Regions from separate parts of the Homo sapiens genome. Here regions 2 and 3 are each reported to be linked to region 1. Evidence: microRNA targets listed by miRTarBase, many of them from high-throughput screens and not tested one by one. Region 1 holds a microRNA gene; each other region holds the end of a gene's coding sequence.
What was found. Region 1 holds the annotated microRNA hsa-miR-3677-5p (CAGUGGCCAGAGCCCUGCAGUG, at 2,328-2,349, shown strand). A microRNA usually pairs through its seed, bases 2 to 8, with sites in the 3' UTR of a target mRNA and lowers its output. Matches are read on the target gene's strand: a 7mer-m8 pairs with bases 2 to 8, a 7mer-A1 pairs with bases 2 to 7 and ends in A, and an 8mer does both.

Region 1 (7,759 bases):
ACGCGCCCGTGCCCCGCCCCTTTCCTTGCGCGGGCGCACTGGGCCCGCCCGGGCAGACTCCGGCCCCTGTCGCCGGCGGTGGAGGCGGGGCTCCGGGCCGGGCTGTGCTGAGGCCGGCGGGGTGGTAGCACAGGAGGGGTTCGCAGGCTCTGCGGCCGTGCGTGGCGGGGCGTGGGGGCCCGCAGGGCGGAAGTAGCTCGGAGAGACGGGCTGGGGCAGGGCGTGCGTTCGTGCGGTCAAAATCCACTGGTGGCGTTTGGGGTGTTCCCGTGGACGCGGCCTCCCGGCAGGCGGACCTCCACCGGGTGGGCGCGGCAGGCGGGCTGTGCGGGCAGGAAGAGCGACGAGCTTGAGAGTGGGAGATGGGGTGCAACGGCGGGCCTCTCCGGGGAGGTGACACTGCCGCTGAGACCCGAATGGAAGGGCGCGCCCGGCGGGGGAACAGCAGGCGCCGAGGTTCGCTGGAAGCAGGGAAGGGAGGCCCGGGTACCGGCTCGCAGGCCCGCGCGAGCTTCGCGGCAGCGGCACGGAGCGTGTGAACGGCGCAGCGCCGAGGCTTCATCCATCGGCCGGTGCAGGGTCCGGGCAGGGAGCACTGTCGACCAGGGTCCGACCCTGGGAGAGTCCAGAGGTGGCGCCTCTGGCAGGGACAGAGGAGGGGGTGACGCTGTAGGGGTGCAGGCAGGAGGCTCCGCGTCAACTCCCCACACTGACGGGGCGGATTTTTTTTTTTTTTTGACAGAGTCTCGCACTGTTGCCCAGGCTGGAGTGCAGCGGCGCGATCTCGGCTCACTGCAACCTCCGCCTCCCGGGTTCAAGCGATTCTCCTGCCTCAGCCTCCCGAGTAGCTGGGATTACAGGCGCACACTACCACACCCGGCTAATTTTTTTTGTATTTTTCTGGTAGAGACAGGGTTTCACTATGTTGGCCAGACTGGTCGAGAACTCCTGACCTCGTGATCCGCTCCTAGGTTCGCCTTGGCCTCCCAAAGTGCTCGCTCCTGGGCGTCCCAAAGTGCTGGGATTACAGGCGTGAGCCACCGCCCCCGGCCGAGGGCGGGTTTTGTTCTCTGCTGTGCCTGTCAGGCAGTCGTTGCCCTGTGGTTATTTGTGGAGGGATTGACGGTGCGCTGAGCTTCAGACTTTGTCTGAACAGCTTCGTGGCAGCAAGGAAGGGAGAAGGGAACAGATCCAAGCCGATCTTTGGGAGGAGAGAACCAGCATGACTTGGAGACTTTAGATGTCAGAGCAAAGGACAGGGTGCAGCTTGGTGACCCGGAGTGGGTGGGTGGGTGAATGGATGGATAGATAGTGGGGATGTGGTCTGCCATCACTGCCCTCTTCCCTGTGTGGGAAGCCAGCTCTTGGTGACTTCCTGCCGAGACCCACTCCCTCTGGCCCTGTCCGAGGGTGTCAAGTGTGCCCTTGACCCTTCACCCTGGGCTAAGGGATGTCCAAGGAGTTGGGGACAAAGGCAGCTAGGAGGAGGAGCTACCTCCCGAGTCTGCTGCAGTAAGTCACCAGTGTGTTCCTGTGGGTGGAGGCTGGCAGGCCCATCAGTCTGGTTTGGGTACCCGTTGGATTTGGGTTTGATGACATGTAAAGTGAGTTAGAGTCTCTGCATTACTGTCACACCTGCTGTGCCCAGGCATGGAAGATTAAGTGGAACAGAGGGGCCGCCCCCCTGCTGAAGGGGCCCCAGAGTCGGCGCTAGGGGAGGGGGCAGCCTCGGTGGTCCAGGCAGGCATAGGCGGAATTCTCTGAGGTGGCATTGGAGTCCAGTGGTCAGAGGTGCTAAAAGGCCCCAAACCTAGAGCCCATGCCCAGGGCCCCACTGACACCTGGTGGGCAGGGGCAGCCTGGTGACCCCACATGACATGGGTGGGCGTGACGCAGCACCAGCTGGGCCGACAGCCCTCCCCCTGCTGGTTTTTAATGCTCTGCAGTAATGTCATTTGGCCTGCGAATAAGCTTTCACACATTTTATATTAAATCTACAAGTATGATTTATTCAGGCACTTACGAATTTAATCAAATTTGTTTCTAAATATTACTGATTTTTGTTATCAAATGTGCCATCAGCTGTTGAGCTTTGAGAATTGAGCATCCTGGCTTTTGCCATTTTGAGGATCAGCAGAAGCATGTCTGGAAGAAATGTGAGAAAATAAAACTCAGGAGCCTACCCCCACCCTGCCCTTCCAGGAGCTCAGCCCCAGAGCCAGGCTGCTAAGGCCATGGAGGCTGAGGGCAGTGGAGCTGGGGTTTCTGGAGCCTCAGGGGCCCTGGTTTGCTGGAAGGGCAGGCAGGGCTTCATGGAGGGCATTAGGCAGTGGCCAGAGCCCTGCAGTGCTGGGCATGGGCTTCTCGTGGGCTCTGGCCACGGCCCTGAGCTCCTCCCCTTACCTTCCCAGAGCGGAGGGTCACCTGCTGAGCTGGGCACGGGCTTCTCGTGGGCTCTGGCCACGGCCCTGAGCTCCTCCCCTTGCCTTCCCAGAGCGGAGGGTCACCTGCTGACAGTTTGGGGCGGCTCTGTCTTTGAGAGCATGCCCTCATGAAGGCAGAATGTCCTCCCTGCCTCCATCCTCTGTGGCCCGGTGGCTCCTGCAGTGCCTGCCCTCAGAGGCTGGTGGCCTGGGACACAGGGATGAGGATGGGCTTGGTGGTGCTGCAGGTCACAGTGGGTCATGAAGGAGCTTTGGGGGTGTTGCATTCTCTGGTAAAGCACAGCAAGGGAGCCCTTTTACCCACTACTAAAACCTGGCTCTGCACTGAGGCCATGCGCAGCCCAGTCAGGTGGACGAGGGGGTAACGACTGGACCGTGGGGAGGCATCAGAGGAGGAGCTGCTGAGAGGCGGGTCACCACAGCCTGGTGCCTGTCTGGAGAGGGTGGGGCTGGGGGAGGTGCTGGCCAGGTCCATGGGGGTGGCCAGGCTGGGTCTGAAAGGGCCTTGCGCTGGTGTGGGGTGAGCTTGGTCTGTTGGGAGAGTATGCAGTTCATTGGGGCCTCCCTGGCTCCAGGTTTGCATGTCTGAGGAGTGGGTATCATCAGGGCCTGGGGCCTCTCCAGTGGGCATGTCTGAACTCTCCCAGGGTTGGGAGCCTGTGCTCATCACAAGCTCAAAGCACTCCATTTCTGCTACCATGAAGTCAAGGATGGTGACTGTGAGCCGCCTGGGACCTGAGCTGCCTGGGACTGTGACTGAGGCACCCGGGGTGCCTCTTAGGGCCTTGGGTTTGGGCCCATGGCTAGATGAGCCTTGGTGATTCTGTGGTATTGCCTGGGCCAGGTGGACCCAGGGGCAGCTGCGGCTAGTCCATTTGGAGCTCCTTCAAGCCGAAGCATCCAACACCAGTGTCTGTGAGGTGTGGGCCCGGCCCCAGGAGCGGGGCCTGGGCAGCCCCGTGTGTTGAGGAAGGAAGGCAGGGCCCCCGCTCCCCGGGCCTGACCCCACTGCTTCAGCCCCCTCCTGCCTGCCTACAGCCTGGCCTCGAGGGCCCATCAGGTGAGGGGACCCCACCTGCACCACCCCGTCCTACCTCCTGGAGGAGGCCTTGCCCCTGACAGGCAGCCTCCAGCCCTCCCACCCTGATCCCTGTGTGGGATGGCCAGAGCATGCCCAGCATGCTGGGGTTCGGCGGTGGGGGGCATCTGGAGGGAGGGACATGTCAGTTCGGGGAGGGATGAGCAGCCTAAGTGACTGCAGTGCTGGGCCATCTCCTGCATGGTGGAGCTCCCCTCGAGCCGCCTGTCTGCAGGGGGCTCTGGCCAGTAGTGCAGCCGGGCAGGGTCTGTACGGCACAGGCTGCACCAGCCTCCATGCAGACCAGTCTGTGTGGGAGTGGGGGTCTCAGAGGGCCCAGCCGGCCTATGCCATGAGCATGGTGCTGGCCCAGAGGGGGAGCTGAACAGCAGCTGGGTCGGTGCGTTACCTGGTGGGGCAGCAGACAGCAGCTGCCCTGGCTGGGGTTCAAGCCCCGGGCTGGCCTGGTGGAATCCCCTCTCCGTCACCCCCAGGTTCTGTTCTTGCAGGTGTCAGGCCTGGGGCCTTGAGACAGACCTGCAGTCTCCACCACAGCCACAGTGGGTGGGGTCTGGGTCCTCACGGAGGTGATCCTCCACCCCCACACCTACCTTGTGCATGGCAGTGGTGTCTCCTGGAGCTGGTGAGACCCCACCTCACTCAGGAAACCCCCCAGACGCCCCCAGGCAGAAGTGGCCATACTCCAGGGCCTGCATCCCTGTGCCCCACAGTGCGCCCTGGCCGGTTGGTTGTAGGAACTCAGAAAAGCAAAGCAAACAGGATGGTTCCCTGCTGGACACATTACATTCCCTGCTGGACACATTTCTATTGCAGATCTTTAGTCCAGGATTCCAGGGTAGCCAAGGTCACCTGAGTCCTGGGGACTCTGGGCCTGGTCTCTGAAAGCAGCCAGTAAGACAGAGATGGGAAACCCAGCAAGATGGAGTGAGCCAAGGGCACAGTTGGGTCCAGGCGCAGCAGGGAGCTGCCTGGGGGTGACACACACTTGACGGAGGCCACTGCACACACCCTACCCCGGCCTGAACTTGAGCACTTCCTTTTTTTTTTTTTTTTTAGATGGAGTCTCACTGTAGTCCAGATGGAGTGCAATGGCGTGATCTCGGCTCACTGCAAGCTCCGCCTCCCCGGTTCACGCCATTCTCTTGCCTCAGCCTCCTGAGTAGCTGGGACTACAGGTGCCCGCCACCACACCCGGCTAATTTTTTTGTATTTTTAGTAGAGACGGGGTTTCACCGTGTTAGCCAGGATGGTCTTGATTTTTCGACTTCATGATCCGCCTGCCTCGGCCTCCCAAAGTGCTGGGATTACAGGCGTGAGCCACCATGCCCGGCCAAGCACTTCCTTGAACACAGAGGTGACCATGAGGAGGGAGGCGTGAACCAGGATGACGGGGCAGCAGATGGAGCCTGCCTCCCTGAGACCTCAGGTGACCGAGTGCTGGACTGCCTCCTCCTGCCTACATGGCTGAGAAATAAACTTCTTTTTCAAACCACTGTGACCTGGGGTTTTCTGATACCCTCAGCAAGCCTGTTCCTGTGGCCTGGTGTGGGTCCCCTGACCTGTGGCCTGGGCTGCCTGTATCCGGCCTGCCCCTCTGCTCCGCTGTAAACCTGTGATGGCAGTGGAGGGGCTTGGCCTGGGCCCGCCCCACCGCGAGGTCTTCCCCTCTCCGAGTTCTGGGTGTGGTTTCAGTTGAGCCACGCCGTTGGACTGGGCCGGCCTGGAGGACAGAAGGCACAGGCTCTTCCACATACCTGGCTCGTGGCCCATGGGCCGTCTGCTCACGGGAGCCCTGCACCAGGCCATGCAGAGCAGTGAAGTCAAAACCTCGTTTCCCAGGTCTAAGGTGAACTGGGAGCAGGGCAGGAGTTGGCTCTGTCAGATGCCACAGTTGTTTGGGGACAGTGTCCGTAGAGAATGTGTGGCCCCCCTCCGTGGTCTAGGGTGGAGCGTGGATAGGCCGGTCACTCCTATCCCTGGGCCCAAGGCTCTTTTCCCCTGCCCTCCCGTGGGCTGGGAACTGCCACAGCTCAGACAAAAATCGGCCAGGGCAGGGTCCTGAGGCTTCAGTCCCAGGCTCCTTAGGGCACCCCTGGTGACCCAGCTCCAGCACTGAGTTTCCAGAGGCCTTGAGGATTTCCCTGGGATGCCAGATGGGCCCTTCCTGCTGCTCCTGGGGTCATCTAAGCTCCAGGCTTGGGTGCAGCCCTGGGCCCCTGCCACAGACGCCCTGAATGCACCTGCCCCTCCCGGTCCCCACGCAGCAGCCTCCTGAGCTGCGGATCATTTTCCTAAGAAGGCATTCTACTTGTGCCAGTCCTTACTTAAAGACCCCTGCTGGTGCTGGCAGCGTGCTACCGGGAAGGATGGTATCTCCTGTGCGTGTCCTGTGTACGCTGGCCTCACACGTGTGTGCCTCATGCGGGCTGTGCCCTCAGTCCTATACGCTCTCCCCAACCCTCTTTTAGGGTGTCACAGGAGAAAAATGACACATTCCTAAATCTCTAACACATGGGCTTGAAAACAAGTCTGAGGATGCCCTGCAGAAGGGCCATGGGCATGGACATGGAGCTGGGTGGCCTCGTGCACTGACCTTTCCCTCTTCCTAGCCCCAGGCCCGACCTAGAGGCCACAGCCCCTGCGGACAGGCTGTGGGGCCAGAAGGGCCCACTTCAGAACTTTTCTCGTGGGCAGTGTTTAGGCCACAGCCACCCATGTGTAGGGGTGGCTACACATGGGTGGCTGTGGCCTAAACACTGCCCAAACACGTTATATTTTTTATAACATGGAACTAGATGGCAGAAGTTTAAAGGGAATAAAAGAGCTACTGGAGACGATTTGCAGCTTTCATAAATTTCCAGAGACTGATAAAAACACAGACTTGAAATTGTCCCAAATGAGCCAAAGTGATGAAAACAAGTCTTTTCTAAAACTCTGAATTCTAAGGGAATGTAAAATGCAGAAGTTCAAATCGGGTTTAGAAAACCATAAGAAATAATAGTGCATTCGCCGGGCATGGTGGCTCACGCCTGTGATCCCAGCACTTTGGGAGGCCAAGGCAGGTGGATCACTTGAGGTCAGGGGTTTGGCAGCAGCCTGGCCAACATGAGACCTCGTCTATACTAAAAATAAAATTTAGCCATGCATGGTGGCGCATGCCCTTAGTCCCAGCCACTCCGGAGGCTGGGGTGGGAGGATTGCATGAGCCCAGGTGTTTGAGGCTGCAGTGAGCTGTGATACCACCACTGCACTCCACGCTGGGCAGCAGAGCAAGATCCTGTCTCCAAAAGACAAAACACAAAACAGTGCATAAAAAGGGGCCAGGCACGGTGGCTTATGGCTGTAATCCCAGTACTTTGGGAGTCTGAGGTGGGTGGATCACTTCAGGTCAGGAGTTCGAGACCAGGCTGACCAAGATGGTGAAACCCCGTCTCTACTAAAAACACAAAAATTAGCTGGGTGTGGTGGCGCGTGCCTGTTGTCCCAGCTACTCGGGAGGCAGAGGCAGGAGAATGGCTTGAACCCGGGAGGCAGAAGTTGCAGTGAGCCAAGATTGCGCCACTGCACTCCAGCCTGGGCAACAAAGCAAGACTCCATAAATAACTAAAAAGGGAGCTGATGAGGAGTTATTTCTGGGAAATGGCAAATGCCCACGGGTGACCCTGATGCCAGCAGCTTCTCTCCCACCAGACCTGTGCTTCCCACACAGCCCCACCTGCTCTTGTCTTTAGACTAAGAGCCTGTCACCGGGCGTTGATCTAGCCGGCTTTTTCCTTTGTGTTATGGGCCTGTTCCTTCACCTCAGTGTATTCTCTGCGTGTGCTCCCTTCTGGGAAAAGCAACGTCCCACGTTTGTGTGATTGAAATGTGAAAGGAGAGCCTCATGTCTAGATTGTGGGCGAGTGATTGAGCCCTGTGACCGCTCGCGCGTGTGACCCACAGACTGTGACTGTGTCCCCTCAGCATTTATTTTCTGGATGGTCACAACGTATTCAATGTGTCCTTGAGACAGCCACCCAGCCCTTAGGGTGGTCCCTGCGTGTCCTGGGGCGGGCGACTTCCTGAGGGTGCAGTGCTGGAAACAGAGACTGCTTCGAGCCTGGCCACCTTCCCTCCTGTGCCGGCTGCTTCTAGGAGATGCTGTGGGACGGTGCCCGGCTTCGCGGTGACTACCATGCCCTAAGGAGCAGAGCCTCCAGGATGCCCCCGGGCTGCG
Region 2 (7,759 bases), not on the chromosome of region 1:
TTGGGAGCCTGAGTTGGAGATGACCCTGGGCAACAAAGGGAGCCACCCCGTATCTACAAAAAAATATAAGGAGCCGGGCACAGTGGCTCACACCTGTAATCGCAACACTTTGGGAGGCTAAGGAGGGCGGATTACCTGAGGTCAGGAGTTCAACACCAGCCTGGCCAACATGGTGAAACAAAAGTCTCTACTAAAAATACAAAAATTAGCTGGGCGTGGTGGCAGGTGCCTATAATCACACCTACTTGGGAGGCTGAGACAGGAGTATTGCTTGAACCTGGGAGGTAGAGTCTGCAGTGAGCTGAGATCGCACCACTGCACTCCAGCCTGGGCAACAATGAGCAAAACTCCATCTCAAAAAAAAAAAAAAAAAATTAGTTGGGCATGGTGGTGCACACCTGTAGTCCCAGCTACTTGGGAGGCCCAGGCAGAAGAATCACTTGAACCTGGGAGGTGGAGGTTGCAGTGAGCTGAACTCCAGCCTGGGAAACATAGTGAGACTCCGTCTCTAAATAAATAAATACACTGTCACTGCATGCTTCCGGGGGTCACATTCACATAGTCTAGATGGTGCCTCCTAGAGTTGCATGCAAACAATGGGGCTGTTAACCCCATACTCTGCAAGCCTTGCACACCTGGACCTTATTCAGTGCTAGTCATAACTTGCAGAATTCAGGCCATGTTCTGCAATAAAAGTGTGAGCTGCACTCCCCAAGGATCTACCTCAGCCCAGGAATCATTCACTCTGGAGGAAGCGCTGTACTTTACTAATGTCTAGCTCCGCTTTTGGGCCGACTGCAGATCTTATCTGACACAGGCAGAAGACAGCTTCCTTTCACAGGGGTGGCATGAGGCATAAAGGAGTCAAAACACTTTCACAAAAGAACACCCTCGGCCAGGCACAGTGGCTCACGCCTGTAATCCCAGCACTTTGGGAGGTTGAGGCGAGCGGATCACAAGATCAGGAGTTCAAGACCAGCCTGACCAACATGGCGAAACCCCGTCTCTACTAAAAATACAAAAATTACCTGGGCATGGTGGCGCACACCTGTAGTCCCAGCTTCTCATGGGGCTGAGGCAGGAGAATCACTTGAACCCGGGAGGTGGAGGTTGCAGTGAGCTAAGATCGTGCCACTGCCCGCCTGAACGACAGAGCAAGAGACTATCTCAAGGAAAAAAAAGCACCCCCATCCTGGCTAACATGGTGAAACCCCATCTCTACTAAAAATACAAAAATTAGCCAGGCATGGCGGCGGGCGCCTGTAGTCCCAGCTACTCAGGAGGCTGAGGCAGGAGAATGGTGTGAACCCAGGAGGTGGAGCCTGCAGTGAGCCTAGATTGCGCCACTGCACTCCAGCCTGGGCGACAGAGTGAGACTCCGTCTGAAAAAAAATAAAAAAACAAAAGCACCCTACAGAAAAGGGTGTGCTCAAGAAAGAAGGCTGGTGCTTTAGCTCCGTCAGCATTCAGGAAGCCACCTGCGGACTCTTGCCGCCAAGGGTCTGATTCTACCCTCCCTGAATCCCCCATCTTGTGGAATCTATATGTGTATATATATAATCTATATATATATTATATAATTATATATATAGATATTATATGTATACATATAGATATTATAATTATATATATATATACACACATATATATATAATCTTTTTTTTGAGACAGAGTCTCACTCTTTTTGCCCAGGCTGGAGTGCAGTGGCACGATTTCAGCTCACCGCAACCTCTGCCTCCCGGGTTCACAAGCGATTCTCCTGCCTCAGCCTCCCGAGTAGCTGGGATTACAGGCCCCTGCCACCATGCCTGGCTAATTTTTGTATCTTTAGTAGAGACGGGATTTCACCATGTTGGCCAGGCTGGTCTCAAACTCCTGACCTTAGGTGATCTGGCTGGCCTTCACTTCCCAAAGTGCTGGGATTACAGAGGTGAGCCACTGTGCCAAGCCTCAATTTTCTTTTCTCTTTTTTTTTTTTACGGAGTTTTTTCTCGTCATCCAGGCTGGAGTGCAGTGGCGCGATCTTGGCTCACTGCAACCTCTGCCTCCCAGGTTCAAGTGATTCTCGTGCCTCAGCCTCCTGAGTAGCTGGGACTACAGGCGCCCGCTGCCATGCCTGGCTAATTTTTGTATTTTTAGTAGAGACGGGTTTTCACCATGTTGGCCAGGCTGGTCTCGAACTCCTGACCTTAGGTGATCCAGCTGGCCTCAGCCTCCCAAAGTGCTGGGATTACAGGTGTGAGCCACCACACCCGGCCTCAGTTTTCTTTTTTTAAAAAAATAGTTTTTTCATTTAGAGATGGGGGTCTCACTCCTGTCACCCAGATACTGGCACTGCAGCCGTAAACTCTCGGGCTTGAGGAATCCTACCACTTCAGCCTCCCAAGCAGCTGGGACTACAGGTATGTGCCATCACACCCAACTTTTGTTTTTTTTTTTTTTTTTTTTTGAGACTGAGTTTCACTCGTTGCCCAGGCTGGAGTGCAATGGCGCGATCTCGGCTCACCACAACCTCCGCCTCCGAGGTTCAAGCAACTCTCCTGCCTCAGCCTCCCGAGTAGCTGGGATTACAGGCATGCGCCACCATGCCCAGCTAATTTTGTATTTTTAATAGAGACAAGGTTTCTCCATGTTGGTCAGGCCGGTCTTGAACTCCCGACCTCAGGTGATCCGCCTGCCTCGGCCTCCCAAAGTGCTGGGATTACAGGCGTGAGCCACTGTACCCGGACTACACACCCAACTTTTTACAATTTTTGAAGACACAGGGTCTCACCCCTGGGCACAAGCAATCCACTTCAGCCACCCAGAGCTAGGATTACAGGCATGAGCCACCGCACCCAGCCAGAATCAACTTTTCCTTCCATTACATCTTAGCTCAAACCCAAGCTCAACAGAAGAGGAGGGTAACTTAATTCATTTTTTTTTTTTTTTTCCTGAGACGGGAGTCTCACTGTCGCCCAGGCTGGAGTGCAGTGGCATAATCTCGGCTCACTGCAACCTCCGCCTCCCAGGTTCAAGCGATTCTCCTGTCTCACCCTCCTGAGTAGCTGGAATTACAGGCGCGTGGTACCACGCCCAGCTAATTTTTGTATTGTTAGTAGAGACTGGGTTTCCCCGTGTTTGTCAGGTTGGTCTTGAACTCCTGACCTCAGATGATCCACCTGCTTTGGCCTCCCAAAGTGCTGGGATTACAGGCATGAGCCACTGTGCCTGGCTGCAATCACTTAGTGTTTTTTTTTTTTCCTCTGCAGACAAAAAAATAAAGTTATCCAAAATTCAACATAAGAAAACTGTAATCACCAAGAGGAGCCAGTTACATTGCAGATAACAGTGCCTATCACCTTCACCTCTGTCAGAGGCCCTCAGAATTTCCAAAGTGTTGGAAGTGGAAGAAGGCAGGTTTGAAGTTTTAGGTTGGGTTATTAGCAAACCAGATCCCCATTTCTTGGCTGGGCATGGTGGTTCACGCCTGTAATCTCAGCACTTTGGGAGGCCGAGGCAGGTGTATCACTTGAGGTCGGGAGTTCGAGACCAGCCTGGCCAACATGGTGAAACCCCATCTCTACTAATAATACAAAAAATTAGCTGAGCGTGGTGGCAGGCACCTGTAATCCCAGCTACTCAGGAGGCTGAGACAGGAGAATCCTTTGAACCTGGGAAGTGGAGGTTGCAGTGAGCCGAGATCGTGCCACTGGACTCCAGCCTGGGCGACAGAGCAAGACTTCGCCTCAAACAAAACAAAACAACCAGATCGCCATTTCTCAATGACTTATGGCCCTTGGAATGCAAGTGGCAGGACCTTTTGGGCCTCCAGTGAGGGACAGCAAACCACACTTATCCTCAAACTTCACAGTAAGCCCACAGCAGCCCTGCCCAGGGAGAGGGCCTGTCAGCCGGGTACCCTGTGTCCAGGGTTTCATTGAAGAACTGTCTACAATCACCATAGCACCTGGCCTTAAATAATGGATTTGGAGACGGCTTCTGGGTGGGATGCATATTACAGGGGTACCCCTTTTAAAAATTAGGAATTACTCCTATGAAGTGAGGTATGTTAGAAACTGTTAAGAAAAAGTTACCTCAAACATTCACAGCACTAAACGAATAGAACAAGGTCAGAAAGCGAGGTTTTCTTATTTTTACTGGTTTATAATAATCTTAAAAACCCCATCACACCCATAAACCACCACAGGTGAGGTGAGAGAGATGGAGAATGAATGCTACAGTATGTGGATAGAATGGGGAATCCAGGTATTCCCTAGGGTAGTGTAGGATGGAGACAGGGAGTGTGGAGAGGAGGCCCTGGCTTGGACCCTTATTGCTGGCTGGGGGTTGGCTGGCAGAGGGGAGAGGGACTCAGGCTGAACTCCGAAAGAAGGAACATCTCACACCAAAGGCGAGGGCAGTTGGGGGCAGGGGGATCACAGTACATTTTCCATGCAGACTAAGGGTGGGAGTGAGAGCTTCAGAGGCTTGCACCCCTACACAGGAAGAGATGGGTTTGAGGTTGTTTGACTTAAAGCCCCCAAGTTGGTGTCTGGTCCAGTTTCCTAAAATAGCAGCTCACCTTTCAGGGAGAGGTATTGGGGAGGAAAAAAAAATACAGCAAGAATATCTGCTTTGGAGATCAAGCAAGGGGTAGGGGGAAGACAGTGGTGCTCTTTAAATCTGACTCAGAAAAGCAGGAACTGGAAGAGGGCCCTGGGTGAGATGGCGGCCAACACCTTCGGAGAAGGCATTGAGTCAGAAGCTACAGGTGCTCCTGGGGGATCAGGACAGGGAGGTACCAGTGTTCACAGACGGCAGGAAAACAATTGGGAACAATAAATTAGGACTTCATGTTGCTATCATTTGGCATAACACAATCAGGCTTTTTTTTTTTTCTTTTTCCTTTTAAATATAAGGCAACTTGCCAACACATAACTTAAAACTGGTCTTCAGTCACATTGCTTCAGATCACTAGAGAATTTCTGGCTAACGAACAGTAGTGGATAGTGAACAAAATGCAAAACCTTAAATAAGAACCATCAGCTGACATTCCCCAGAGACAAGAGGAAAGGTAAGGGCTTATTTCATCTGTAAAAAATAAAAAAGCCCAATTCTGCATCTTTAACAGAATGGTGCAAAAATTTGTAACAAAACAGTCTAAGTTTAAAATTACAGAAAAGTGTTTCTAGCCAACTAATTGTCGCTTGGGATGAGACGTGCTGAGCATGGAGTGGATGAAGGTATGCTCTAAGAATGGACAGAGGGCAGGAGGGGCTTGTTTCCAATGTAGGCCCAGCTCCAGGTGTTAGAACCATGCTCATTTGGTAAAGGAAGTACTCAAAGAGCTTAAGGCTTTGTGTTTGTTTTTTTTTCCTTCATTAAACTGAGGGGCTGCACTAGAGGGTGAATGTACCTGTGGGGCCACTCACACACAATGCTACTCAAACCCACACTACATTCATACAGAAACGTAACGTTTAAAACTTACAGTGTAGAGCAATATTCTTAGCCAGTGTAGAGAGAACCAAATGCATTTTTTTTTTTTTGGTGTTTTTAATCCCAAACTCCAATGTGATCATTCCTTACCTACCTAATTCCTCAAGTAAGGTAGATTTTGTTTTTGTTGAGGGGGAAAGGATAGGGGCTGTGGGGAGGTGAGTTAGGGGACAGGCAACAGTGAGAAAGGGATCTTGGGTATGCTCAAAGGTCACTGTATTTTTCTAGGTTTGGAAAGGGGAGTCTGGAACCAAGATGCCAATACAAAGACTTTTTCCCCCCATATCTCAAGAAATGGTCAAATACTTCCAAGATGCCCTTGAGATCAAGTGTGGCAAGGGCAAGTGCAGTGGCTGTGGGATCAATATAGACACAAAACAAAGCCTTGAGGAATGGAAAGGAACTTGAAGGATATGAAGACTGGGTCAGCTTTGATTTGAGATCCTTCGATGAGTAAGTAATTAGCTTTCAGAGCACCTGGGAAATCTTGCTTCTTAGTCCTGGAGGGAGGGGAAGGGGGGTAGCAACAGGTAGAGGTCTGGATTAGGGGCCTGAGCACCTATACTACCTCAACTAGGGCATTCCGTCAGCCCACACCTCAGTCGTCCTAAGGGAAACAGGAAGAGATTCAAGAAAAGATGGGTGGGAGCTGGCTGGAAATGGCCAAGGTGGAGAGACTAGCTGACAGGCAGTCAGTGGAGAGAAAAGCCTGGGCTTAGGGTTAGGTTCTAACATAAAACCAAAAGTTGCTGGAGGGGAGGACGAGAGGACCCCTTCTGTCCCCACTTAGATCCCACCAAATTCCCTTTCTTAGACATCTAAGAATGATCACACTGGAGCAGTGAAACTTTGAAACTATCCAGTTACTTAAAAGACTAAACCTAGGAGGGTGATGTATGATGTGTTGCACGTGGAGGGCAGCAGGGCTACCTATCTATACCCTGGGTGCTGAATATGAAGACTTCGACTCTCTGTGGGATCGGGGGCTCGGTTGCCAGGGGCTCGGTGGGCCTTGCTCAGCATGGCCAGGCTCTGTTCTCGGAAGCAGGCCTGTTGGAAATCCCCACTTAGGTAATCCACTGTTTGCATCAAGCTGTTCTGGCTTGCCACTGGACCGCCCCCGGTCCCTGCTCGGTAGTGGGCCCCGGGAGCTGCCGCACAGTCGAGGGGTGCACCTGTGGGCTGCCCACCGTGGAACGGCATGGCAAGGTCCTGAGACCCCGAGCTGTCGCTATTGGGAGTGGGCAGAATGTTGTTCCACAGGGGTTGGAAGTAGTGACCATTGGGGTAGGCCAATGGGGCTGCCATGCCGTTGACTGGTGGGGATGGGGTCGGCTTTTCCAGGGGTGGCTTCAGATGGAAGGACTGCGCCAGGCAGAGTTCCTGCGGGTAGGCAGGGGCCTTGCCCACAAAGCCAGGCCCTGCCAACTCGCGTCCTGCCGCATGCTTGCCTGTCAGGCCAGGGGCTGGCGTCCCACTAGCCTCGCTGCACATCTGCTGTAGGTGGGCCAGCTGGTGCTGGTTCCAGGTGACTGGCTTGAGGTCGCTAGGGTAGCCAGTGGGGACGCGAGAGATGCCTGTGGGCAGGTTGACAGGACCTGCAGCAGGCAACGCGGCGGTGGCCGCGTGGGTGTGCTCCATGGGATTGACCACACATGAAGGCATTGGTGTGGGGACGCTGTGGGTCGACACCCGGGTGCTTGCATTGATGAGCAGACTGCGACTAATGGGGCTGGGGTTGGCGATCTGGCCCTCACACACTGAGGTAGTGCTGATGCCTGCCCTCGTCTGGCAAAACTGGTTGATCTGGTGCACGATGCTACTCAGGTCCGGAGGCTGGCTGTGCTGCAGAGTGGCCGCCATTGAAAGGGGGATAGTTGAGGTAGACACGGTCACATTCGGGGGGGCATCTGAGTCTGGCATCTTCCGGCCTCCATGCAGCAAGGGATTGTGGGGGTGCTGGAGACCCTGGTGAGCCAGGGCCTGAGGGTGGACCAAGCCCTGGGTTTGGGCCATGGGCTGAGGGTGGCCCAGGCCCTGAGGCTGCTGGAGGCTCTGAGGGTGGGACAGTGCCTGGGGTGGCGGGATACCCTGAGGGTGCTGCAGCGTCTGGGGAGGGGCATGGGCCAGGGTCTGTGCATGCTGCAGGGCCTGCTGGCGGGCCAGAGCCTGGGCCTGGGGGTGGGCTAAAGTGCTGGGTGCCACAGTAGCATAGGGTGCCACTGGGGGGTTCATGATGGCCTCAGGGAGCAACCGGGCTCGGGTGCCGTCAAAGTCC
Region 3 (7,759 bases), not on the chromosome of region 1:
GCAACCGGGGAGGGACAGTGGTATCCAGCCTGCCTCTCTCCCAGCGGCTAGGGAATAGGGCTGCAGGGGCCTGGTGCCAGTGGTCTGGGGAGAAGTGTGAGCTGGGCCTTTGCTCCTGTAGTTCCTCCACCGGGAGCCTCATCCCAAGCCCCCATGCTAGGTTCTGTGGGGTGAGGAGAGAACTAGGTTTGGGGCATGCGAATTGGGGGACCAGAGGCAGGCTCAAAGGGGTGTGGTGCTGAATCTGAGGGCCAGATACCTCAGGGTCATTATTCTATCTCTCATCAGTGGAAACAGGGAATTGGAGAACTGAACGGGGGAGGAGGCTTGTCCGAGATCACACAGCAAATTGACAATAGTTGGGCCGGAGAGGTGCCCCTCAGCAGCGGTGGGGATGCCACAGCTAAATGAACTCACCTGGGCTCCTGTTCCAGAGGTCTAGGTGGGCAACAGGCCCTTCATCCTGCTCTCTCCTCTTGAATTGGCAATTCTTATCCCCACTGTACAGATGAGGAAACGGAGGCTCTGAGATGGGCCGTCAGGGCTGTGCTGTCCTGGGGGACTTCCAGGACGCTTAAGGATCTTGGGGCCCCTTGGCTCTCCCTGGGCGCCTAGCATGTGGTGGCACAATGAGGGTGAGGCAAGCTTCCCTCAGGGGAGGTGAGTGGGGGCTCGGGGTCCCGTGGGCCCACGCATGCCCGGGCTAAGCTTAATCCTTCTGCGAGGCACAGCGGCTGGCTTTCAGGCTGTGGATGTGGCATCAGACAAGCTGGGACCCTCTGTTCACACCATGGGTCTTGATTCCCATGGGGCCCAAGTCCTGCTGGTCTGCAGATGTGTCCTTCCCACACCCTCTCCAGCACTCCTGACCCACCCTCAACTACTGTCCTGGCCTCCTCCCTGTCCCCTGGCCTGCGCGCTTGCCTTTCAGGCCGCTCTCACTCACCAACTAGATCTTCATTGTGACAGCCAGACCCCATCAGCCCTGTGCCTGATGCCCTCTAGGGGCTCCCCTGTCCCCTAAAGAGGCTCCTCCCTGGCCCATGACGCCCTGTGGAAAGGCACTGCAGCTTCTCCTCTGCCTGCAGCCCTGAGGCCAGAGGAGGAGTTGAAGGCATGGAGGGAGGCGTGTGGAGACCCCACACATGCACGGAAGCTACACGGCAGACAATGGCCCCTGGAAGTGTGCGATAGGACAGCCCTGGGAAGGGGGCTGGCTGCCTGGGCAAAGAGAGGTTCTAGCAAGGGGCCGGAGTCTGTGTCACGGTCACCTGTGGGGGCTCATCTGACCCAGCCAGAGACAATGGGGCCAAGGCCTCTAAGAGTTGCTAATGATAGTCTTTAATGACCATGCCTGGAAAGGGATGACTTCACCCAGGACACACCCTGATGAGAGGAGGCTACAGTCACAGGCAGGCGGCTCCTCCATTGCTATGAGACCTGCATGGGCTTGTCTAGTCAGAGGATGGCAAAGCTGTGTGTGTGTGTGTGTGTGTGTGTGTGTGTGTGTGTGTGTGTGTGTGTGTGTGTGTGTGTGTGTGTGTGTCTGGTCCCTCACAGAGCCAGGGCCTAGTGAAAAGCCTCAGGGCAGCAGGGTGGGGGGCCCAGCTTCTACCTTGCCTCACTCTATGACACCCCTCTGCAAACCTCACCTTCCCCATCAGCACAGGGCTGGGAAGCAGAGTGATTCCCGAGCCTTCCCAGGGCTCTCAGGTAGGCTGGGTCTCAGGAGTCAGGTGAGAGCACTGTGTCCTGGTGGGGCCCAAAGAAAGCAGGGGAAAAGATGTCAAGGATCAGGACCTGAACACCCTCCATCGGGGCACCCAGAGGTTAACATGCTACTGTGCTCCCTACAGAGAAAGCTGGCTCCCATATCAGGCCCTCTGGCTTCTGCCAAGGATCTGGGGGTAGGTGTTGGTGTCCCAGACACATCCATTCTGACACAGAGGGAGGTACAGTGCAGTCATGCTGTTGGCCCAGGTGCACAGCACATGGGCAGTAGCAGGGAGGGGCAGGCTCCAGTGCAGGCTTGCCACCTACCCCCACCCTGGTCCATTCATGAGGAATGACTTTCCTCTGGGGAGGGGCCCTGTGGGGGTGGCAGGCAGAGCAGGGCCCTCTCCTGAGGGCTCCCTCTGCCCCCAGGCTCAGAGCGGGACCACCCTAGGGAAATGTTCATCTCTCCTGCGGTCTTGTCGGAACCCCTTCAAGGTCATCGCTCCACAGCACTCCAAGTGCTTCCTCGTATCCAGCCTTAGTCAGTCCTCATGTTGCACTTGATTCATTTATCAGAGGACAAGTTGAGGGCCCCATTATCCTGCCACCCAGTGTGACATCACCGAGCTTCCCTCGGGCATGTTCCCTCCCTGGGACTGCCCAGCCGGCACAGGAAATGGCTGCTGGATGAATGTGCAAGTGAGTAAGTGTCTTGGATCCTCCTCCCATGGGAACACTAAGCGGCTAAGGAGTGGACCAGCTCCCCGGGGTCCAGGCTGAAACGGAGGCAGAAACAGGGACCAAGGAGGCAAACAGGCTCAAGAGAGCAACAGGACTGGGGACAGAGATAAAGCAGGTGCACCCCCAGAGAGCCAAGTGTCCAAGAGCTCAGGACGGCTGCGCTGAGGGCCTCAGCCACAGATGGCCTGAAGCAAGCAGGGCCCGCTGGGGAGAGCATGGCAGAAACGGGGTGGGATAGGAGGAGCTCAGGACACGGGGCCATGAGATGGGAGCCCAAAACCCAGGGGTGGGGGACCACAGTCCAGTAAGCGTGGCCCGGCCCAAGGTCACAGAGCAAGGACCCAGGGCCCCAGCCTCTCAGCCATGACCTGGCCCTCTGTCCCCCAGCAGGGAACCTTAGCCAGGCCCAGTGCTGAGGTAGGAATTTCTACAGGTAAGGAGGACACAGACGGTCAGAGAGACCACTGGCCCCAGAGTGCACAGGGGTAAGTGGCGGGGCTGGCCCTCTTCAGGCAGTCCCAGTCCTCCGTCTGAAGAGCCGGCTCAGGAGGCGGCTGCCACTCCCACCCCCACCCCGTCCTGTGCTTGGGCACGCTGGCACTGCCAGGCACTTACTCGGTTTGTCGAGGGCCCAGCCCCCAGCCCAGCACCCGCGGGCTTCCCCAGGCCTGGGCGAGGGCAGCAGGAGGGAACAAAGGCCCAGTCTCTGCCTGCTCAGGCCCCCACCCCCTTTGCCTGCCCCTGGCACAGAAGGAACAGGGCCCTGAGGGAGCCCAGGAGCAACAGCAGCACCGCCCCCTTGTCGAGGATGCAGCAAGAAGCCCCCTCCTACCCACAGAGGCCTGCCGGCTGAGCGGCAGGATTCTTCCACGCTCCACATGGGAGTGTTAGGGGGTAGAACTGAGGGACTGCAGTCACACAGCTGAGATTTGCACCCAGGCCCCACAGTGGGCAGAACCTGCCCTCTACCCCTCTCCACAGGCTGCGCATGATGGTTGTGACTGCGTTCTGGTGCAGACTAACTGAAGAGCAGAGATGAGGGAGAGAAGAGAAGGAGAGCCTTGGGCACCCCAACAGAGCAAGTCCCAGGCTGAGCCGCCCTCACCCTCTCGGCCCTACCTACCTACCTTCCACCTGGATCCAGCTCAGTGCTGATCACACAGTTTGCTGAAGGGATAGAGCTGGGGAATGTCAGAAATGGGGAAACTGAGTCAGCTTCCAGGCCTCTTAAGTCCTTGACTGGGGCTCACCTGATCCAGCCAGAGGCAAGGGAGACCTAAGCCACTCTGGAGCCTCCATTTCCTGATCTGTAACTCGGGGCTTGTTGTCCACTGGGGCCTCACTTCCCCAGACTGTGGCCCCCATCCTTCTCCAGACCTCCTCCCTGCTCTAGCCCAGGGCCTCGCTTAGACCCCCACCCCCAGGGGAGCCTTGACAGAGGCCCATGCCCACCCTTCCTTGTACACGCCTGAGCACGGCTGATTCCTCCCTGTGAGCCCAGGCCAATAATGTGCTCTTCATGCCACAAAGCTGAAAAGCACTCAGGAACCAGGTGCAATCGGCCTAAGGGACCTGTCCAAGGCCACCCAGCCCTTAAGAAGCAAAGAAGGGCTGACCTGTCACTACCCACTGATATCTCAGGACCTGCAGGGGCAGGGTTAAATGCACATTCCCCTCTCACCCACACGGCAGCAAGAGAAAGAGTTAGGGTCCTGGGGGCTGCAATCTGGGCAATGCCTAAGCAGACAGCCTCAGACAATGAAGGGCGAGTCAGGACTCAGTTGTGTCAACTTGGTATATACAACCTCTCCAAGCCTTGATTTCAGCAGAAGCCCACAGAGAAAGCCCTGATGCCTCTGCCTGCCAGTGCCTAAGGGCTGGGGAAATGCCACCTGCCCCAGCTTCATCCAGAAACTGTGGCTGCTCCCTCCCATCTGCGGGGCACCTTGATTAGTCTAAGTGGCCAGCAGACCCCAAGCAGAACCAGGCCAGTGCCTCACACAGAGCAGGCACTAGGATGCCTGTCGACAGCACTCCTTCCCCTCCTTCCCAGGCCCCAAGCCCTTATCGGACACGACTCATTTTAAAGAAAAAATAATATTTATTTGCAATATAAACAAAGTCCCGTTGTTGGTTCGGGATATATATATATATGTATGTGTGTGTATATATATACGTAGGGTCACAAATCTTCCTTCATAAGATCATAAAGCAAAACTGGCCACCTTCTGGCATACCCTCATTTACACAAATCTGGTACATCTTTCTGGGTTTTCTTTTTAAAAATAAAAGAGAGAAAAAGAGAACCATGTACAGCATGGAAGCTTGTTGTCAATTTCTCGACTGTGGCAAGATTTTAATCTGCTGCGCTAAAGAATCCCTGAAAGCCACCCCCGTGAGGTAAGAAGCAGTGGGGCAGAGTTTTTCTGTGGCCTCACTCACATGCTGAGTGCTGCTCCGTCAGGGACCCTGGCCTGACTCCTCTGCCTGCCCCAGGCCCCCATGCAGTCCTGACACCTGGTGGAACTGAGGCTGGAGAAGGAACAAAACTGGAGGAAGATAACGGAATCCGTGGCTTCGTTCTGTGGAGGCAGGGGGAAGTGAACAGAGCCTTACCCCCCTTCTGCTGGTCCATCCTTGCCCCACTTGCCCCCGCCCTAGGGTTGAAATGGGTGCAAGTCTCCTGGCAGTAGAAGGCATGGGCAAGATGAGGGCAGGGCAAGCTTCCAAGGGGACAAGGGGGCTGGGAGTGGCCAGACCAAAGCAACAGCTAGGGAGAAGGAAGAACCTGGAGGTCGGGCTGGGCCCCACCACCTAATGTCTCCCCAGCCACTGGGCCTCCACTCCCAGTTACAACAAGAGAGAGGAAAGGAAGAGAGAGGGAGGGGGGGAGAGAGAAAGAAAGAGAGAGAGAGGGAGAGAGAGAAAGAGAGAGAGGGAGAGGAAGAGAGAGAGACAGACAGACAGACAGAAGTAGTGGCTAAGTATATAAAAGGGCTCAGAGCCCAGGCCTTCTTAGGGGCTGACCCCAGAGGGCTAATGCTACTGCCTGGCAGCCCCCTGCGGCCCACCTCCTGGGGGACAGCGGCAGGGCCCCAGGGTCCCCACCTTCTGCCTCAGGGAGGTCTGCAGGGACCACCAGAGGGATGGATGAGACGGCAGAAAATGCAAAGACCACCATCCAGCCCACCAATCACAACTTGCAGCAGTCATCACAGGCGAATGCAGAGCTAAGTCAGACTGGGCCAAGGGTGGGAGGCGGCACGACTGGGGGTCCCAATACCTGAAGAGCAGTAAGCCACCCCTTCAAGAAGGGCCCGCTGAGGAAACAGAGGCTTCACACATGTGCAAAACGCATTTGGTCAAGGTCAACATGGCGTCTGTCTTTTCCATTAAAAAACAAAAACAAAAACAAACACGATACTTGCTTTTTGAAATTGAACGAAAAACAAAACTGAACATTTCTCTCTCTTGCAGGATCAGGAAAGGGATGAAATACTGGGTTATACAATCCACTGTTGCATGTAGCCTGAAAATAACACTTTTTGTTAAAAAAAAAAAAAAAAAAGAAAAATCAAGAAGAGCTCAAACACTCTTTGTGCTCCAGGGAGCTTGGATTTACCTGCCAAAAGTAAAAAGTAAACTCAGGTCCGTGGATGTGTCTTTAAAAAACAGCCAAACTGGCTGGGCTGTCAGCAGAAAGGAGCGTCCTGGACAGGATGAGGCCCTGGTGGACGCCCAAAGCCACGTGTCCAAGAGCCGAGGCCTCTCCAGCAAGCCCTGCAGTGGGAGACCTTGCCTGCGGGCCCTGCCCCCAAGGATGGTGAGGGGCGCTCCGACACCGATCAGCCTGGGCCTCTGGGCACAGGTGACATCTGGGGGTTCCTCAGGCCAGAGGTGGCGGGCTTGGGCTCTCCCACCTAGCCCTGTGGAGAGCCGAGCAGGGGCCTGGTGCCATGCCCCCCGTGCACCAGGCCTCACGTGGACTCCAGCGTATTGAGTGGGAACAGGTTGTGGTTGGTGGGCGTGGAAAAGTAGAGCTGCTCACTCGACGCGTGGTTGTCGCACGGGCTGCTTAGCCCCAGCGTCCGCTCAAAGTCCAGCAGCTGCCCCATGAAGTTGAAGTTGGGCGAGATGTTGGACTTTTTCCTCTTGACAAAGTCGTAGGCGTCGTTGAGTGACAGGTTCATCTTCTGCATCAGATAGGCCACAGTGACCGTCACTGAGCGGCTGATGCCTGCCAGGCAGTGCACCAGGACACCACACTTCTTGGAGCGGGCTTCGTCTGAAACACATTGGCATGGGTCAGGGAGGTGCCTCCTTCAAGGAGCCTTCCCACATGGGTGGGCAGGTGGGGCTGGGGCACAGAGGGCAGCATGGTGGCTGGCTGGTCTTGCCCGACCCCTGAGGGACCTGGCCAAGCCCAGTGTGGGTAGGGCAGCAACTTGGAATAGAGGTCAACAGCACTGCTGTGGAGAGGGCTCTGCACACTTTAGCCCCAAGGCACTGGACACCCGTGTCTGTTTCCTCATCTATAAAATGGGCCTATTTATGCACAGTGGTCTCATAAGGACCTGAGCCAAGTGAGGGGTCAACAAACATGAACTACTGTAATGCCTGTGATCATGGCTAGTCCTACCACTGCCATGTGCGTTAACGACTGCTGTCACGGGTGTCACCTGCATCCTCTTGGGTCATCTGCACCATGGCCAGTAAGCCCATTTTATCAACGAGGAAACAGACACAGAGACAAAGTGGCAAGCCCAAGGCCACACAGAAGCTCCTCCTAGCTCAGCGCCCGCTGCTGCCAGGCCATGACCTGGGACTGGGGGCTGGGCTGGTTCTCTTGGAGCCGCTCCCATGGGTTGTCCCTGAGAGTCTTCTAGGAAAGTGGCCTGAGGGAGGCTCCTCTGGAAGGAAGTAGGTGGCCTGGCCCTGCATTTCGCTCTGCCATCTGCCCAGCTAGTCCCCAAGGCCTTAACTCCAGCTCCTAAGACACATGGACTGGGATGATGGCCACACTATCACTTGTGATGGGGCTTCATAAGTGAGGTGTGCTTAAATGGGCCCCACCCCTGCCACTTGCTAGACCTTCCTCAGGAGGCCCATGTGTCAGTGATATCTCCTACCACAGCTGACTGGATGGGGCCAACCTTCCTGTCCCCTTTCCCCTCCAACCCTCCCAGCTTCCCCCAGTGCCACCCTCAGACTCCTCTGTCTGACACATAGAAGCTCAATAAATACTGGCCGAGCTACTGAACAACTCAGTCCTGTAATCTCTCCTGGACCCCGGGGCAGCTGC

Region 2: the mRNA of FAM222B is a reported target of hsa-miR-3677-5p. The part of its 3' UTR that is shown has no 7-base or 8-base seed match.
Region 3: miRTarBase lists DUSP7 as a target of hsa-miR-3677-5p. Seed matches in the 3' UTR shown: 7mer-A1 at 5,432-5,438 and 7mer-m8 at 5,206-5,212.

Annotation. Positions count from the first base shown.
Region 1 is chr16:2,268,388-2,276,146 of GRCh38, forward strand. MIR3677 (microRNA 3677) reads left to right here and starts at 2,326; the gene lies at 2,326-2,385. ABCA3 (ATP binding cassette subfamily A member 3) reads right to left here. Exons shown (of 33, transcript NM_001089.3): 33 at 7,494-7,759. MIR3677HG (MIR3677 and MIR940 host gene) reads left to right here and starts at 276. Exons shown (of 3, transcript NR_132988.1): 1 at 276-456; 2 at 3,289-3,504; 3 at 4,600-4,685. MIR940 (microRNA 940) reads left to right here and starts at 3,360; the gene lies at 3,360-3,453. It also overlaps MIR4717. RefSeq lists a silencer at 1-386.
Region 2 is chr17:28,751,859-28,759,617 of GRCh38, forward strand. FAM222B (family with sequence similarity 222 member B) reads right to left here. Exons shown (of 3, transcript NM_001077498.3): 3 at 4,122-7,759. The coding sequence ends at 6,412. Among named protein-coding and RNA genes, the nearest start is that of TRAF4, 12 kb to the left of the region's middle.
Region 3 is chr3:52,044,381-52,052,139 of GRCh38, forward strand. DUSP7 (dual specificity phosphatase 7) reads right to left here. Exons shown (of 3, transcript NM_001947.4): 3 at 4,539-6,742. The coding sequence ends at 6,435. LOC124906238 (a long non-coding RNA gene) reads left to right here and starts at 1,849. Exons shown (of 2, transcript XR_007095908.1): 1 at 1,849-2,942; 2 at 3,439-4,578. RefSeq lists an enhancer at 1,940-3,139.